Linked DNA regions of Homo sapiens: region 2 is linked to region 1. The links come from fine-mapping of genetic effects on gene expression. Tissue or cell type: whole blood. Region 1 holds a variant in brackets; the other region holds the start of a gene. All regions are shown on one strand. Distances are between the middles of the regions.

Region 1 (8,095 bases):
TTTTTTTTTGAGACAGGGTCTTGCTCTGTTGCCCAGGCCAGAGTGCAGTGGTGTGATTCATAGCTCACTGCAGCCTCAAACTCCTGGGTTCAAGCAATCCTCCTATCTCAGCCTCCCAAGTAGCTGGGACTATAGGTACGTGCCACCATGCCTGGCTAATTTTTTTTTTTTTTGTAGAGACAGGGTTTTTCTATGTTTCCCACACAGGTCTCTTTTCCCCCAAAGACTTTGATAAATTTCTGTTGTTTAAGTCTCCCCTTCTGTAGCATTTTGTTAGAACAGCCTGAGCCAATTGAGACAGTGTCTCGGATCAAGACCAACATGATGTATTGGCAGACGGACACTATGGAGTAAACTTGAAGCTTTCCTCATGTGAAGAAAAGAAGGAAAAAAGAAGAGAGGGAAGGAAGGAAAAGAAAGAAAGAAGGAAGTAAAGAAAGAAGAGGGACAGTTGGGGAGACGGAGGGAGGGAAGGACAGGGAAAGAGAAAGAAAAAAGAAAAAGAAACAGTGGCCTCTAGCTTAGTGACCAGGTTTAGATGATTAAGAAAAATAATAAACACCTCCCCCCTGCCCCCCGCACTTCTTTAATCGTTCTAGAGTACAGTACTTGGGCTGGAAGCCAGTCCACAAATGTGTTGAATGAATAACTGAATGCATGAAATCAGTCCATCTTTACACCTTAGATTTTTGTGCAGCTCTAGATGATGTATGCTTCTCTACTAGGATGAGGGCTTCCTGCAGTGAGCGCTTTCCCCACCAGCCAAGAAGCCAGGTCCCTTTAAGTCTTACAAACAAGCATTTAATACAGGTGCAGCACGGTGGCTCAGGCCTGTAATCCTAGCACTTTGAGAGACCCAAGCAGGAGGATCCCTTGAGTCCAGGAGTTTAAGACCAGCCTAGCAAACATAGCGAGACCCCTGTCTCTATTTTTTTAAGCATTTAATAAAATTGCACGTTGCAATGGCAAATGCACATGCTCCATCCAGACCCCACCGGTAGAGTGGGATCTGTGTGAGGGACAGCACCCTACAGATACAGAGAGGACAGGCTTCCAGGCTTCTCAAGGACTAGAGGGAACCTTGTACGATTTAAAGCGGAGGAACTGGGAGTGGCTGAAATGACAGGGTGTGCTATGGAGTTCTGCAGGGAACATTGGGGCCTCCCGTAATGCTTGCAGGATTGCAAAGAAGGAAAAAAGGGTTTGGGCAGCCTTGCGCTTCTCAGGGCTTCCAGTTGACATCCTATGGACAAAGGCCCTCCTGCCACAGCCAAGGCGCGTTTCCATCAGGGGCGACTCCTGGGGCGCCTGAGAGCAACCTCCTCCCGGCGCGCCCCCACCCTGCTTAAAGGCACCGGGTTGCGCCGGGCCAGCACCTGGGAGCTCCCCAGCCCAGCGCTCGGAGCACGGGGGACAAAGGCCGGTGCCCCCGGGGACCTGATGCCCAAGAGGGCAGGCCCTCTGACCAAGTCGAGGAGGCACACCGGCTGATTCCCAGCGCCCACGTCCGCAGGAGCAGCTTTTGTGCTCATTTCCATTGCATTTCAGCACTTAGAAAAGAGCTGCAAATGCCAGCGACAGGTGGTGTGGATGCAGAAGCAAAGCAGGAGCATGAAAGCCAATCAGTGAAACAGAGGCAGGCCCGGGCGAGGGCACCAGCCTGGGAACCCGAGGCGTGCTCCCTGAGCAGCAGGTTTGGGGTAACCTGAACGGCGGCCTTTGGTGGCCCTGTCCACCCAGCGAAGCAGCTCCTGCCCTACAGTAGCTTTTGGCGAAAAGCTCTTCAAGGCCAGTGATCTCCCTTCCCCAAGCTAATATTATACCACAGATTTCTCTTCTTACGTACTGCAATTAAATATCTTACGGGCTGCTGACTGCGAAGCTGGTGGCTTCAAGCAGCATTTGGAGAAGATATGGAAACCGGCAACGTACCTATCACAAGACATAAGGGAATTTTATGTAATAAATAATAAATAATAAATATTTATTATTTAACCAGGAGAGGTGGTTTCCACCAGGGAAGGGAGAGCCGGGGAGTGTGCGGGGAGGGGTGCCCTACGGTGGGCTAGGAGGGGTGCAGGGGGAGTGCAGGAGGAGGTGGGCAAGTGGGGGATACCGGGGTGGGGCGGGTTGGGAGGGGAGGGGCTCTCAGATGGGAGACAAGAAGTATGCGGGGAGGAAGGGGGGTGGGGGAGGGTGGCGGGGAGGGGAGCAGGAGTTGGGGGAGGGGCTCCGGGGGATGGGTGGGGAGGGGAGCTGGACTGATCCCCGATTTACCCTGAGGAACACGCAAGCCGGCCTCCTCCACCCTGTAAACCCCGAAGCAGCCTCATCCCTGTGCCACACGGGGGTCGAGAAATCTTGGTGACATGCAAAGATTGGGGAGAAAACATTAAGGCGCAAACGTGCATGAAATACAACAAATTCCAAACTCAGAAATAAAACCGAGGGTCGCAGAGAGGCAGCGGAATGAAGGGTGGCTTTGGAAAGCTCGAGAAGGCGCATCAGCCAATTGGTTTGTGGTGTGAGGCGGGTGAGAATGAATTTAGAACCAACTGGATACTGCACCCCTCAGTATTGGGGCGTCACAGCACCGCGGCACCCCTGCACTGCGTACCCATCTTCCCCGGCACCCCTGCAGCCCCAGCATCCCAACACTCCTGCACTCTGGTGCCGGGGCTTCCCTCTATCCCTGGCACCCCTGTGAACTCAGCACCACACCATTTGACAACTCTGCTCCCGGCACCCCTGCACTTCTGCACTCGGGTACCACTGCACCCCTGCATTCATATCCTCTGCCCCCACACCCCTGTAACCCCAGCACCCCCAGCATCCCTGCAACTGGTGACCCTTATAATCCCAGCAGCACCCCATCTGACACCCTTGCGTCCGGCACCCCAGCACTGCGGTACCCCGGCATTCGTGAAGCAGAGCACCCTGGCGCCGCATGCCCTGAGCCTGGGCTGCCCCTTCGCGCAGGAACCCAAGACGGAACCCACTCGCGTTGCGCCCGAGGAGGTGCGAGGCTGGTCCGCCAGACCCGCCCAGCACGTCACCAACACACCTAAGGAAGCCGGCTCCGGTGCCGCCTCCGTGGGGCGCAGGCTGGAGATGAAGGTCCAGGTCTCTGGACTGCGCAGAAACGCTTTTCCCAGAACCGCCCAAGACATTAACTAGGTGAAGTGGGTTATTTTCCCGAGTGCATTTGACGCTTCTTTCCCAGGCCGGGATGGGAAAATGGGCTGGCCACCGGGTCCCTGTCCATCTGTGTCCTCCAAAGGAGGCTGGAGGATCACTTGGGGCCAGGAGTTCAAAACCAGCTTGGGTGACACGACATAGCGAGACCTCGTCTCTACAAAAAAATTTAAAAAGTTAACGGGCGTGGTGGCCTGCGCCTATCGTCCCCCAGCTACTTGGGAGGATGAGGCGGGGCCATCGCTTGAGCTTGGGAGTAGGGGGCTGCAGTGAGCTGTGATCGTGCCATTGCAGTCCAGCGTAGGTGACAAAGCAAGATACTGCCTCCAAAAAAAAAAAAAAAAGCTAACCTGAGTCTAGACTGGACTCCCCAGCCAAGTCTTCTAGTCTTGTTTTGTAGCCTCAGATTCTGCACCCTGCTGTCTTCTTAAGTCACCCCTAGGGGGCATTTTGTTCCAGTGGAAGAGCAGAATATGCCTCCTGCAAGATGAGGGATTGTTGGGCTCAGGGCAATGGAGAAGAAAGTATACAGGAGAGCTCACTGCCCTCCCTCTGGGTGGCTAAAAGCAGGACATGGATTTACAGAAGGCATCCAGCCCCCACCCCACTTCACCAGGGAGAAGGGAGGTTAGCACTGAAGACAACTTTGCACCTTTATTGACTGGAGATGCTACCAGGGGATCTGCATTAGCAAGGGCTACTAACTAGACTTCATGTGTCCTTTATGTGCCTTTCTCCAAGTTGCTGTTCCTAGAGACTCAAAGTTCATCTCTCTTATCTTGTCACTTCTCTGCAGATTTACTGTTCTTTGTTGAAGATACCATAAAAGCGGGAATTCAAAGCCACCTCTTTGAGGACTACCCATTCTCTGGGGGCCACGCATGTATCTAGGAAAGGTAGCTGCTAGTAAGCTGCTATTTGTGCCTCTTGCTAATGTGTCTTTTATAACAGGGGTCAGTTTCAACTAAGAATTGATGGGGTGGAGGGTATTTTCCCCCTACATGATGTCATTAATGTGCTGGACCATCAAATAAATTCTAACACGTAATCAAAAAATTCTTCCTTCCAGAAAAGTAAGAAACTCCTATACTTTCTCTAGCAGGAGGGCTGTGGCCTGTTTGGTTTGCTATTTTAACCGTTTATCTACCCTGTGCCTACACCTGCATGGGTTCTCAACTGTACAGCTGACCCTTGAGCAACCAGAGTTTGACCTTTGAGGGTTACCGATACACCGCTTTTCTCCAGCCTTTGCTACCCCTATCCCTGAGACAGCGAGATGAAGCCCTCCTCTCCTTCCTCCTCCTCTGCAGCCTCTCAGTGTGAAGACCACGAGGATGACCTTTATGATGATTCACTTCCTTTTCATGAATAGTAACTACATGTTCTCTTTCTTAGGACTTTCTTAATAACATTTTCTTTCCTCTAGCTTACCGTATTGTAAGGACACAGTATGTAATATATAGAACATTCA[A/G]AATTTGCCTCAATCGACTGCTTATGTTATTGGTAAGGCTTCCAACAGTAGCCTATTAGTAGTTAAGTTTTGGGGGAGTCAAATTATATGTGAAGGCCAGGCACCATGGCTCACGCCTGTAATCCCAACATTTTGGGAGGCCAAAGTGGGAGGATTGCTTGAGGCCAGGAGTTTGAGACCAGCCTGGGCAACATAGCAAGATCACATCTGCACAAAAAAATAAAAAATACAAAATTTACCTGGCCATGGTGGCTCAGGCCTGTGGTTCCAGCTATTTGAGAGACTGATGTGGGAAGACTGCTTGGGCTCAGGAGTTCGAGGCTGCAGTGAGCTGTGATTACACTCCAGTATGGGCGACAGAGTGAGACCCCAACTCAAAAAAAAGTTATACTTGGATTTTCAACTGGACAGGGGTCAGCACCCTTAACCCACGCTGCCTTGTCCAAGGGAGAGCTGTGCATCCAATTACACAAGTGCTTTCTGAATGCTTTTCCCTCCTGTTCTTCCTGTCTAGCTTCTAACACCACCCTGTCCCCACCTGTAGTAACAACTTCCCTAAATTCCTCCTTATGGGCTATACAATTTTTGGGGAGAGGGTTTCCCAAAATGTGGTTCTGATATCCACACACCTACCTAACATTTCTTACTCTACATCCTCAGGGGGCTGGTCTCGAACTCCTGACCTCAAGTGATCCTCCTGCCTTGGCCTCCCAAAGTCCTGGGATTACAGGTGTGAGCCACCGTGTCCGGCCCCCAGTGAGATTTAAAAACACTCCTCAAAGGCTCCAGCCTCAAGCTGAATCTTCTACAAAACTGAACTCACCTTCTCACCCCAGCTCTCCACTCCAAGGGACGCACACCACATAGAAACCCTGGTGGTGTCATCTCACTCTTCTCCATTTCTAGTCAATGGCCACACTTCTCTCCCTAGCTCAGCACCATGGTGCTGCTCACACACGGGCAGGCATTCTAGATGAGTCCCCCATCTGGCCTAGGAACTTCCTCCCTGGCACTTGGTCTCCCTCCAACCAGTTCATGTTTCTGCATTGGGGCACTGAGAAATTCCAGCACCTGGTCACATCTCTATTGTGTAAGCCCTCACTATGTACATGGTCCCTGGATGCCCCACCCACAATCCTAATCCTGCAGCCCAGCCAGGACTCCCTGCCATCTCTTCTTCTGGGCCTCCTCTCACTTTTTAAAAATAGAATTAAAGGCCGGGCACGGTGGCTCACACCTGTAATCCCAGCACTTTGGGAGGCTGAGGTGGGTGGATCACGAGGTCAGGAGATCGAGACCATCCTGGCTAACACGATGAAATCCCGTCTCTGCTAAAAAATACAAAAAATTAGCTGGGCATGGTGGTGGGCGCCTGTAGTCCCAACTACTCGGGAGGCTGAGGCAGGAGAATGGTGTGAGCCCAGGAGCTTGCAGTGAGCTGAGATCGTGCCACTGCCCTCCAGAGTGGGAGAGAGAGCTAGACTCCATCTCAAAAAAAATAAAAATAAAAATAAAAAATTAAAAAAAAAATTACTCAGGTACAGTGAGGCCAACAGATCAGGAGACAAACACCATTGAAAAGATAGTTTATTACTCACAGTTCCCAAGAGGAGGGGTTTGCTATTGCTAAGCCTTCGATGCCACGAGGGATAGCGCCAGGGTCAGTTAAGAGGCAGATGGAGGGAGGGGAAAGTGTGGGCAGGAGCCTTTACTGTGGCTTTCACTGGAAGGAGCAGGCAAGGCAGACTAAGCTAGCTCACAATGGCTGGTTTGAATAAGCCCAGCAGGCTCTGGGTACCTAACCTTGGGATGCTTTGGGCCACACACCAAGAAAGCAATTCTATAGATTCCCCAGTGGACACCAGCTGGGTGTCCTCCAATGCAATGCAATTCCGACAGCAGAAAAATGCAAATGGGAAATTTTTAAAAGAGTCTTCAGTTTTGGCAGGTTGGCAATATGTGTAGGTATTAACCTGATGTACTCCTTTTAGTCTCCTTTTATATAAGACACAGGGGCTGGACTGTGCCATTCAAAGACATCTCTCAATTTCAACATTTTGTGATCCCCCTCACCCTTTTTCCATTTACACATAGAAAATTTGGAGTGCCAACCAAAATAACAGAGAGAGAACGATAGTGGCCTGGAGTGTGACAGCTCCATAGATGAGTGGTTGGGGCTGTGGGCTCTGGGTTGGTGAGTTTGTATATGAAATGCACAATCCCAGTAATTTTTTTTTCTAGCTGTAAATTTTTTTTTCTAGCTATAAAATTGTCCCCGGGAGAAGCTGTCCCTCCATGGCCAGTGAGGCCCTGGATGTCAAAGCCTCTGAAAATATAGAAAATCAAAGGCATGGTTACTACACTTGCATTCCTCTATCCTGCCAGGAATGCTGTTTGCTCTTTTTGGGGCTCAGAAACTGATACCCCAGCGCTTTGACATGCTGAACTGAATAAGAAGCCTCCAGGTCTCTCTGACCTTCCCCTCCTTCCTGTCTCCCAATCTTCTGTCTCTCCCAAAGCACTGGATGAAGCTGTTCTCTGAAATTCCCCTATCTGCCTAAAGTGCAGACCTGCTGCAGCAGAAAACAATGGCCTCCGATCCCTTCCCTGAGTTTCAAACGGCTGAACTCTCATCACAGGAATGAGGACTGAAGTCGGTCAACATGCCTGGACAGACCTTTTTTTTCTAGCTGTAAATATATTTTTTAGCTATAAAATTGGCCCTGGTAGAAGCTGTCTTTGTCACAAACCAACAGACTGTCCCAGACCATTGTATGTTCTTCAAGCCCGTTGAATTTCCCTAAAAAATATTTACTATCCCCCTAAAATAATGCACACTTCCTTATCTCCCTTTCCCCTAAGAGGAGAATAAAGGCCTCTGCACCCCATTGCATGGTGGGGTAACCACCCTGTGATTCTCCCCATGCATGTTAATAGATGTGTAAGCCTTTCCTCCTAGCAATCTGCCTTCTGTCAGCTGATTTTATAACAAAACTTCAGAAGATAAAGGGGAAGTTTTCCCTTGGCTCCTAAGCTGTCCACCCTGTTGATCAGAAGCAGGGCAATGCTGATAACACACCAGTAATGTCCTGATCCTTGATGCTCCTGCCCCGCAACTTTCTAGGTCTGTGCAGTTAGCCCACATCTTTTTTTTCTTTCTCTCTCTTTTTTTTTTTTTAGACGGAGTTTAGCTCTTGTTGCCCAGGCTGGAGAGCAATGGCGCGATCTCGGCTCACCGCAACCTCTGCCTCCCAGGTTCTCCTGCCTCAGCCTCCCGAGTAGCTGGGATTACAGGCGTGTGCCACCACACCTGGCTAATTTTGTATTTTTAGTAGAGATGGGGTTTCTCCATGTTGGTCAGGCTTGTCTCAAACTCCCGACTTCAGGTGATCTGCCTGCCTCGGCCTCCCAAAGTGCTGGGATTACAGG
Region 2 (8,083 bases), 55 kb before region 1:
TGGGCACCTATAGTCCCAGCTGCTTGGGAGGCTGAGGCAGAAGAATTGCTTGAACCCGGGAGGCAGAGGTTGCAGTGAACTGACACCGCACCATTGGATTCCAGCCTGGGCAACAAGAGTGAAACTCCATCTCAAAAAAAAAAAAAAAAAAAATTAAAAAGTGCCCTTTCATGAAGGAATTTCCAGTGGTCAAGGCATCTATACCAGAAAGAGAGTTCCAAAAACAACTCTTCACCTGAGACACTTGTTTAAATACTTAACCAACATCACCTGCCTCCCCAGCCCAGAGGCCCCCAAGCCCTATTCCTTTGTGGTGCTGACCTACGCCCCTGCCCTCTGGCTGCCTCCTTTGTGGTATTGAGCCCCCACCTTCTGGCTGCCTCCTTTGTGGTACTGAGCCCCCGCCCTCTGGCTGCCTCCTTTGTGGTACTGAGCCCCTACCCTCTGGCTGCCTCTTTGAGTCTGATTTTTGAGGCCCCTTCTCTCCACCCTATGTGTGCATCTGTAATTTAAAATTGCCTTTTTATCTTTTTCTCTGCTGTTCATCTGTCTTAAGTCAGTTTCATTCTGAGGCCAGCCACAGAACCTAGAAGGGTAGAGGCAACTTTCTTCTTTTCCTGCCACTGCGGCAGCATATCCCCACGGGCAGACACAGACGTGGAAATGCAGGAAGATGGAGCAGCAGCAGGAAAGGGACTGGACAGCCCTGGGCACCCACCTGCCACTCGGCTAAGCTCTGCTCCTCCCTGGCCTGCAGATTCCCTGTCCTGGTGATCTGCTCCCGAAGGTACTCCATGTCCTCCTCCAGCTTCAACTGTGGGACACACAAACCGCAGGATTTGGGATCAGCGATCCCCCTACCTCCTGCCTAGAGTCCAGTTGTGCTCGCTGAAACTGCACCCACCCCAGAGACCCTCCTCAGGAGGGGCAGGGGATCAAAATACGTCACCCAGAATGTGCCACCTTGGATTATTTTGAGCTGAAGGCACTTAAAAAAGGGCAGGTGTAAGAATTGCTGTGACCCTCGGCCTTCCTAAGAGCAGAAGGCACAGCCACCATGCCAGAGAGGACTGCCCTAGGCCAGGAGGAAAGCCATGTTCTTACCAAGGGCGGGAAAGCCGAAACCAGAGAAATCTGTGCAAAGGGACCCTGCTAAACTAACCCTCATCCTCCTCAGGTACATGTTTGGCTCTAACATGCTTCCATGGGCCTCTGGCTCCTTGGGAGCGACTCCTGGGTCATGGAAAGCTTACAGGGAATGAATTTCAGTGCTTTGCTTCTGCTTATCTGTCTCAAATCAGTTTGGTTCTCAGAGCCACCCAAAATACTCTGAGAGGAGAGGTAAGATTTTGCAATGCCTGCATCATACAGTGTAGGCCCACATTGTCCCCAGGGACACCCCTACCCAGCCACAGGCCACCTTGTCCCCTGGATGCCTCCTCCCCAGCCCCTGACTCGGGCCACTTTGTCCCTGGACACCTCCTCCCTCCCCCATGATCTGGGTCACCTTGTCCCCCTGGATGCCTCCTCCCCGGCCCCTTGACCTGGGCCCCGATGTGGCCTACCTTGTACCCCTGCACTGCCTCCTCGGCGGGCAGCACCCTGTGCAGCCGGTGCTCCCGGGACTCCCTGCACACCACACAGATGGGGCTCTGGTCCTTCTGGCAGAAAAGCTTGAGGGGCTCGTGGTGCTCCTGGCACAGGTCTTGCTTCTGCAGACCAGGATGCTGCTGCGCCATCTCGGCCACCTTGGTCAGCAGCCGGTTGGGCAGCAGGTTCCTCTGCGGGGACATCTCTCTGCACTCGGGGCAGGGGAAGGAGCCCTTCCGCTTCCGCCTCCCCTTCTTGCCCCTCGCCTTTTCCCAGCTCAGCTGGATGCAGGCTCGGCAGAAGTTGTGGCCACAGGTGGTCATCACAGGGTCTGTGAAGTAATCCAGACAGATGGAGCACGTAGCTTCCTCCTGCAGTTTTCTGGCGAGTTCCACAGCCTCCATGGCTCCTGGGAGACACGAGGCAGGTTCCCGCTTGAGGGACTCTGGAGAGAGTTGGAGGGAGCAGCCCGATGATCTGGGCGCCGGCAGTGTGCAACCGTCCTGTACAGCCTCCCTTTACAGAGGAGGGCTAGGACTGCAGTCCAGTTAGAGAGTCCAGAGTCATCATTTTTAGCCTTGTCAACAACAGACACAGATGCCTCCCCAGAAACTACACAGACCCTCCCTGACCAATGCTCTGCAGGCCCCTCCGCCTCTCCTCTCCACTGGGCCTGGACCCTACCCGTCCACTTCCGCCTGCTGCTGGCTACCCCCAGCTCCACATCTCATCAGCTCCTCCTCCCCGACAGACCGTTGCCGGCTAGGCCTTCAACCTGCCTTTCTGGAGAAGCCTGCTAGGTCAGCTTAGGGAGAAGCCCCTACCCTTGGAGCCTTCCCTTAATCACTTTCCATCCACTGACCCCACCCAGATCCCCACTCCAACTCCCCCATACATCCCCAGCTGTCTTTGCTGGCGCAACTCTCCCATTGCAAGTAGCCTGACTAAAGAGCCTTTCAAATGTCAGAATTTTTTCTTTAACAAAACCCCGTACACCAAAGGAAGAAGGGATGGGCTATCAGAGGAAAAAAGCTCTCTTCCATTCGGTAGTGAGGTGGGGTTCAGAAAAAACACGCGTGTGCATGTACGCACAGACGAACACCCATACACATACCCATGTATGTATACAAACGTGCATGTGCACACACGCATACCCACGCATACACACCACACAAATACAAACATGTACGCACAGAAACACTGATCCACAAACACAGCACACACAGGCACAGATGCACATATCGGTAAACATACATGCATGTACACACAGGTACACGCGCGCACACACGCACAGGCACACAAGCATGCACATAGATGCCCCCTGCAATCTCAACACTCGCGACCCCACGCAGTGGAGATCTACAGACTTTCGCCTACGCCACGGGGTTGCTATGGGGACCGAGTTGCAGAAGGAGTTGAAAATCGCGTCTACACTGCAAGCACGATTCTCCCCTTCCGTTCTGCCATCCCCTAAAGCGAGGGCGTCTAGGGGTCTCAGACTTCCCCGGCTCTGTCCCACGTCCAGTTTCTCGGAGCTTTCTGCACGCCAACCACCCGGCGCCAGCCCTCCGACTCCCCCCAAGAGCCCTAACGGAGGCACCCAGCCCACCCTGACCGAAGCCGGGCAGGGACAGCGGCAGCGGGCCTGGGGCTCTGGCTCTGGCTGCCGGGATGGCTGTCCTTCCCGCTCTGGTCCGCTAGGGTCCCGGTAGAGTTACCTTGTTGAAGCGCGCTAGCCCCTCCAGGGACGCGGCGGCCGGCGGAGGCGGGAAGGCCGGGCGTTGGAGGGCGAGGAGGACCGGGTTAGGCTTAGGTCGTGGCCCAGGCGCCACAGGAGGGTAGCCTAGGCGGCGGGGTGGGGGCTACTCACCGCGGGGAAGGGGGGCCCGCACAGCGCCTAGTGCACCTGGCCGAGCGCTCGCTGCCGGGAAAGGCTGGGTCTGCCCCCACGAAGCCCAGGAGGCTGCGGCCCGGCCCGGGGCGTGGGGACCTGGGGTCGGGAGGCCTAGGGACTTTGTGGCGTCAGCGGGGGCTGGGGGGCGGCGGGGGAGGGGAATGCTGGGCGAGGGAGTGTTCGGCGGCCGGGACTGGGGCGGCGCCTCTTAGGAGAGGTTGGGGGTGGCTTGGGGAAGGAAGGCGGCAGGGGGTGGAAGGCTCTGGACGAGCCGGGGACAGGCGCAGCGGGTGCTGACTGGGCGGTGGGGAGGATGTGGTCCACAGCCCAGCGAAGGGAGGAGTCTTGTTGGCCTGGGGTGGGACTTTTAGGGGAGGTTAAGGGAGTGTGGAGGGTGGGGAGTTGGGGGGTTACTTGGGGGTGGGGAGTGGAATGGGGACAGCTGGTGGGGCTAGGGGCGGGCAGGCGAGCGTCAGGGTGGGGGGAGTGGGATTGGAAGAGGCTTCTCAACCTGGGGTTGGGGCTGCGGGAGGGCACGCGAGCCCCAGGCTGGAGGGTTAGGTGAGGGGCTAAGTTGGTCGGGGTAGGGGATGGAGAGGAGTTTGTGTGGGCTGGGGTGGGGGCGAGGCAGCAGGAGCGAGTGCCTGTTGAGAAGCTATGAAGGGGGTCCCCAGGAGCAGCCAGTCAGCCGCCAGGTCTGCCCACATGGTTGGCAGTCAGCATCAGGCTGAGGGTACAGGGAGGGGCGTCCCAATCCTGTGGGCGGACCAGTTTGGAGGGACCACCTGGCAGGTCAGGTCCCCTAGAACCAGGCGGGACGGGGTGGGTCTTGCCGACACCCCAGGTGGTTTTGTTACCAGAAACAGGTCCTGATCCAGACCCCAAGAGAGGGTTTTGGATCTTGGGCAAGAAAGAATTCGGGGCAAATCCATAGAGTAAAGTGAAAGCAAGTTTATTAAGAAAGTAAAGGAATAAAGAGTGGCTACTCCATGGGCAGACCAGCCCCCAGGGCTACAGGTTGCCCATTTTTATGGCTATTTACTGATTATATGCTAAATAAGGGGTGGGGTATTCATGAGTTTCCCAGAAAAGGAAGGGCAATTCCAGAAACTGAGGGCTCCTCCCCTTCTTAGACCATATAGGGTAACTGTGACCTTGTCTTGGCATCTGTAAACTGTTGTGGCACTGGTGAGGGTATCTCATAGCATGCTAACGTATTAAAATTAGCATATAATGAGCAGTCATGATAACCAGAGGTTATTCTGGTCGCCATCTAGGTTTTGGTGGGATTTTGCTGGCCTCTTCACCACATACTGTTTCATCAGCAAGGTCTTTATGACGTGTATCTTGTGCCAACCTCCTATCCCATCCTGTGACTTGGAATGTCTAACCTCTGGGGAATGCAGCCCAGCAGGTCTCAGAATTATTTTACCCAGCCTCTATACAAGATGGAGTTGCTCTGGTTTAAAAGTCTCTTACGGTTTCAGCCAAAATGCCGCCCCCAGCCCTGCCCAGGTCCTGACTGGTGGCCATTTCTCCTGGCCTTGAGTCCCCACGCCTAGTCATCACGCTTCATCCTCCAGTAGAGGGATGCACCTTTCACATGGAGGGTTCATCTCCTGCTTTCAGGAACAGGAGCCAGAGGCCTGCGTGCCCTGAGTCAGAGTCCTGGGATTGGAGAGAGAGGACAGATGAAGAAACTAAGGCTTGGCCCACACAGGGGGTGCAGACAGGCAGGAAAACAGGGCCTTGAAGGCTAAGAGGCACCATTCTGCAATCTCCTGGGTGTGCGGGTGTAGACAGCTGGCCACAGGCATAGATGGCTGGCTTTCCCTGGGCTCACTCGGTAGAGTGTTTCTTCTGTGGTCTCTCATCACTCGCACACACAAAGGGGTCTGTGTGCTGTCAGGTGCGGGCTGGCTGCGCACACTGGCCGATTAAGTGAATTACCCTTGTGAACCCAGAATATCTGAGGCTAGTTTAAGTCAATTAGGAAGTTTATTTTGCCAAAGTTAAGGACACACGCCCATGACACAGCCATGTGCCCAAGGTGGTCCGAGCACAGCTTGGTTTTATACATTTTAGGGAGACATGAGACATCGATCAATATATGTAAGATGAACATTGGTTCCATCCAGAAAGGCGGGACAACTGGAAGTGGGGAGGGGGCTTCCAGGTCATAGGTAGATAAGAGACAAATGTTTGCATTCTTTTGAGTTTCTGATTAGCCTTTCCAAAAGAGGCAATCAGATATACATTTATCTCAGTGAGCAGAGATATGACTTTGAATAGAATGGGACGCAGGTTTGCTCTAAGCAGTTCCCAGCTTGACTTTTCCTTTTAGCTAGTGATTTTGGGGCCCAAGATTTATTTTCCCCAATAAATTGGGGATTGGGCAGACCCAATCCTCTGCCTGTCATTTGCATCAGTGAGGGGATTGTGAGCTGCAGGTTTCCTTCAATTGGGAAAACAGAATCACAGAATTAGAGGGGAAATGGAATATATCTATATCTTGCATAGCACCACACATGTCCTAGTCACCTGCTGACACGTTATCACCCTTTGTTACAAATGGTTTACAAGCAGCTGAGCCTAACAACTTCTTTGGGTTTTCACTTCTTTCCTGTACACCCCATGCATATAAAAATATTAAGATCAATACAACATGGATGCCTTTCTCCTGTTCGTCTGTCTTTGGTCAATTTAATTCACAGTCTCCTCCCATACTAGCATGATGTGGGGAATTCAACAAATACTTGTTAAAATGTGGCATCAGCCCAGGATGCTCATTATTAATGCTTTTTAGGCTCACCTGGTTATTGAGCTGAGAAATCTATCATCATGATAAAACAATTGGAATAACCTTCATATCCTCAAGTCATTAAGAAAAAATCAGATAGCAGTTATGTGTCCTGATAAATTGTTAGGTTTAATAAAAGGCAGGATGTACAGTATATGTAGTCTGCCACTATTTAGGTAAACATAATTACTGTATATGTATCTCTTGGAAAATATACAAGAAATAAACAAGAAACTCCATCTGATGAGGGAAATTAAGGGCTGAGGAACCCCCTAATTGAGGGAGGCTCAATTTTCACTATATATCCTTTTGGAATTCTTAAATTGAATTCTACTTTAATAATTTAATTCTTAAATTAAATACCACTGCTGTGGATTGTGGTTTTTTTTTTCAAATTATTTAAGCAAAGGATCAGCAATGTCAGTCTTGAAACACAAGTCTTACTTACACTGCTACAAGGTAAATATCCTTTGCCCTTACTGAATGCAGCCCCCACTAAGTTATTAACATTGTAGAAAAGATTCGAGAGCAAAATTTAAGTGCTCATGCAATTTAAAATAGGCTGAATTAAATGGAAAAGAAGAGGGGCTCCTGAAAATAGGGTAAGAGAGCCATGGCCTCTTTATGTCTTCAATTCAGACTGCTCAACAGGAGAGTCCACTGAGCCACAGAAAAACAAATCCGGATTGTTATGAACTGAATGTCTGTCTCCAAAATTCACATTTTGAAATCCTCACCTCCAAGGTGATGGTGTTAGGAGATGGAGTTCTTTGGAAAGTAATTATGCCATAAGGGTGGAGCCTTCATGAATAGGATTGGTGCCTTTCCAGAGATTTATTTTCACCTTACCCCTTGCACCACATGAGGACGCAGTGAGAAGGCCCTGTCTGTGAACCAGAAAGCAGAATCTCACCAGAAGCTCAATCTGTTGGCACCGTGACCTTGGACTTGCCAGCCACCAGATCTGTGAACAATAAATTCCTGTCGCTTATAAACCACCAAGCCATAGCATTTTGTTATAGCAGCCTGCATAGACTAAAACGAAAGAAGACAGATTAATGGGAGAAAGCATACACATTTCATTTGTACATGTACATGGGAGCCTTCACAGCAAAATGAAGACCTCAAGAGTAGTTAGGCCTAAGTGCTTATCCACTGGATGGAACAAAGGGTAGTAATTGTGAGAAAGCAACTGGAATACCTAGGGAGGCTGGGGAAGGTAAGAGCTATTTTTGTTTGTTTGTTTGTTTGTTGGAGACAGAGTCTCACTCTGTCACCCAGCCTGGAGTGCAGTGATGTGATCGTGGCTCATTGCAACCTCCACCTCCTGGGTTCAAGCAATTCTTCTGCCTCAGCCTCCCAAGTAGCTGGGACTACAGGTGCGCGCCACCACACCTGGCTGATTTTTTTTGTTTGTTTTGTTTTTTTAGTAGATACGGGGTTTCACGTTGGCCAGGCTGGTCTGGAACTCCTGACCTCAGGTGATCTGCCTGCCTTGGCCTCCCAAAGTGCTGGGATTACAGGCATGAGCCACTCTACCTGGCGATAAGAGCTACTTTAACAAAGCCTGTTTGTATACATTTTGCTGCACTTCAGTCCCCATGCCTAGTCATGCTGTTTCTCCCTGCTGGTAGAGGCAAGCACCTTTCCCATGGAGGGTTCATCACCTGCTTTCAGGAAAAGGGGTCAGAGGGCCCTTCTTACACCTGCTGTTCTTCAAGTGCCTTCAGCTCAAAATAATTCTTATATCAAATCTGCATATTTTGGGGAGGTCTATTCTGCTATCTTGTTGGGAGCTG

The links. PIP is the estimated chance that this variant, and not a neighbour inherited with it, causes the effect.
Region 2: TRIM17 starts here. The variant in region 1 is fine-mapped to the expression of TRIM17 in whole blood (TOPMed, PIP above 0.99).

Annotation. Positions count from the first base shown.
Region 1 is chr1:228,468,351-228,476,445 of GRCh38, forward strand. No RefSeq gene overlaps it. Among named protein-coding and RNA genes, the nearest start is that of MIR4666A, 10 kb to the left of the region's middle. RefSeq lists enhancers at 2,501-3,011, 7,661-8,095. The variant A/G (reference allele first, on the strand shown) is at 4,667.
Region 2 is chr1:228,413,079-228,421,161 of GRCh38, forward strand. TRIM17 (tripartite motif containing 17) reads right to left here and starts at 3,783. Exons shown (of 7, transcript NM_016102.4): 1 at 3,461-3,783; 2 at 1,566-2,035; 3 at 719-814. The coding sequence starts at 1,994. LOC124904537 (a long non-coding RNA gene) reads left to right here. Exons shown (of 2, transcript XR_007066918.1): 2 at 1-179. RefSeq lists a silencer at 3,242-3,351.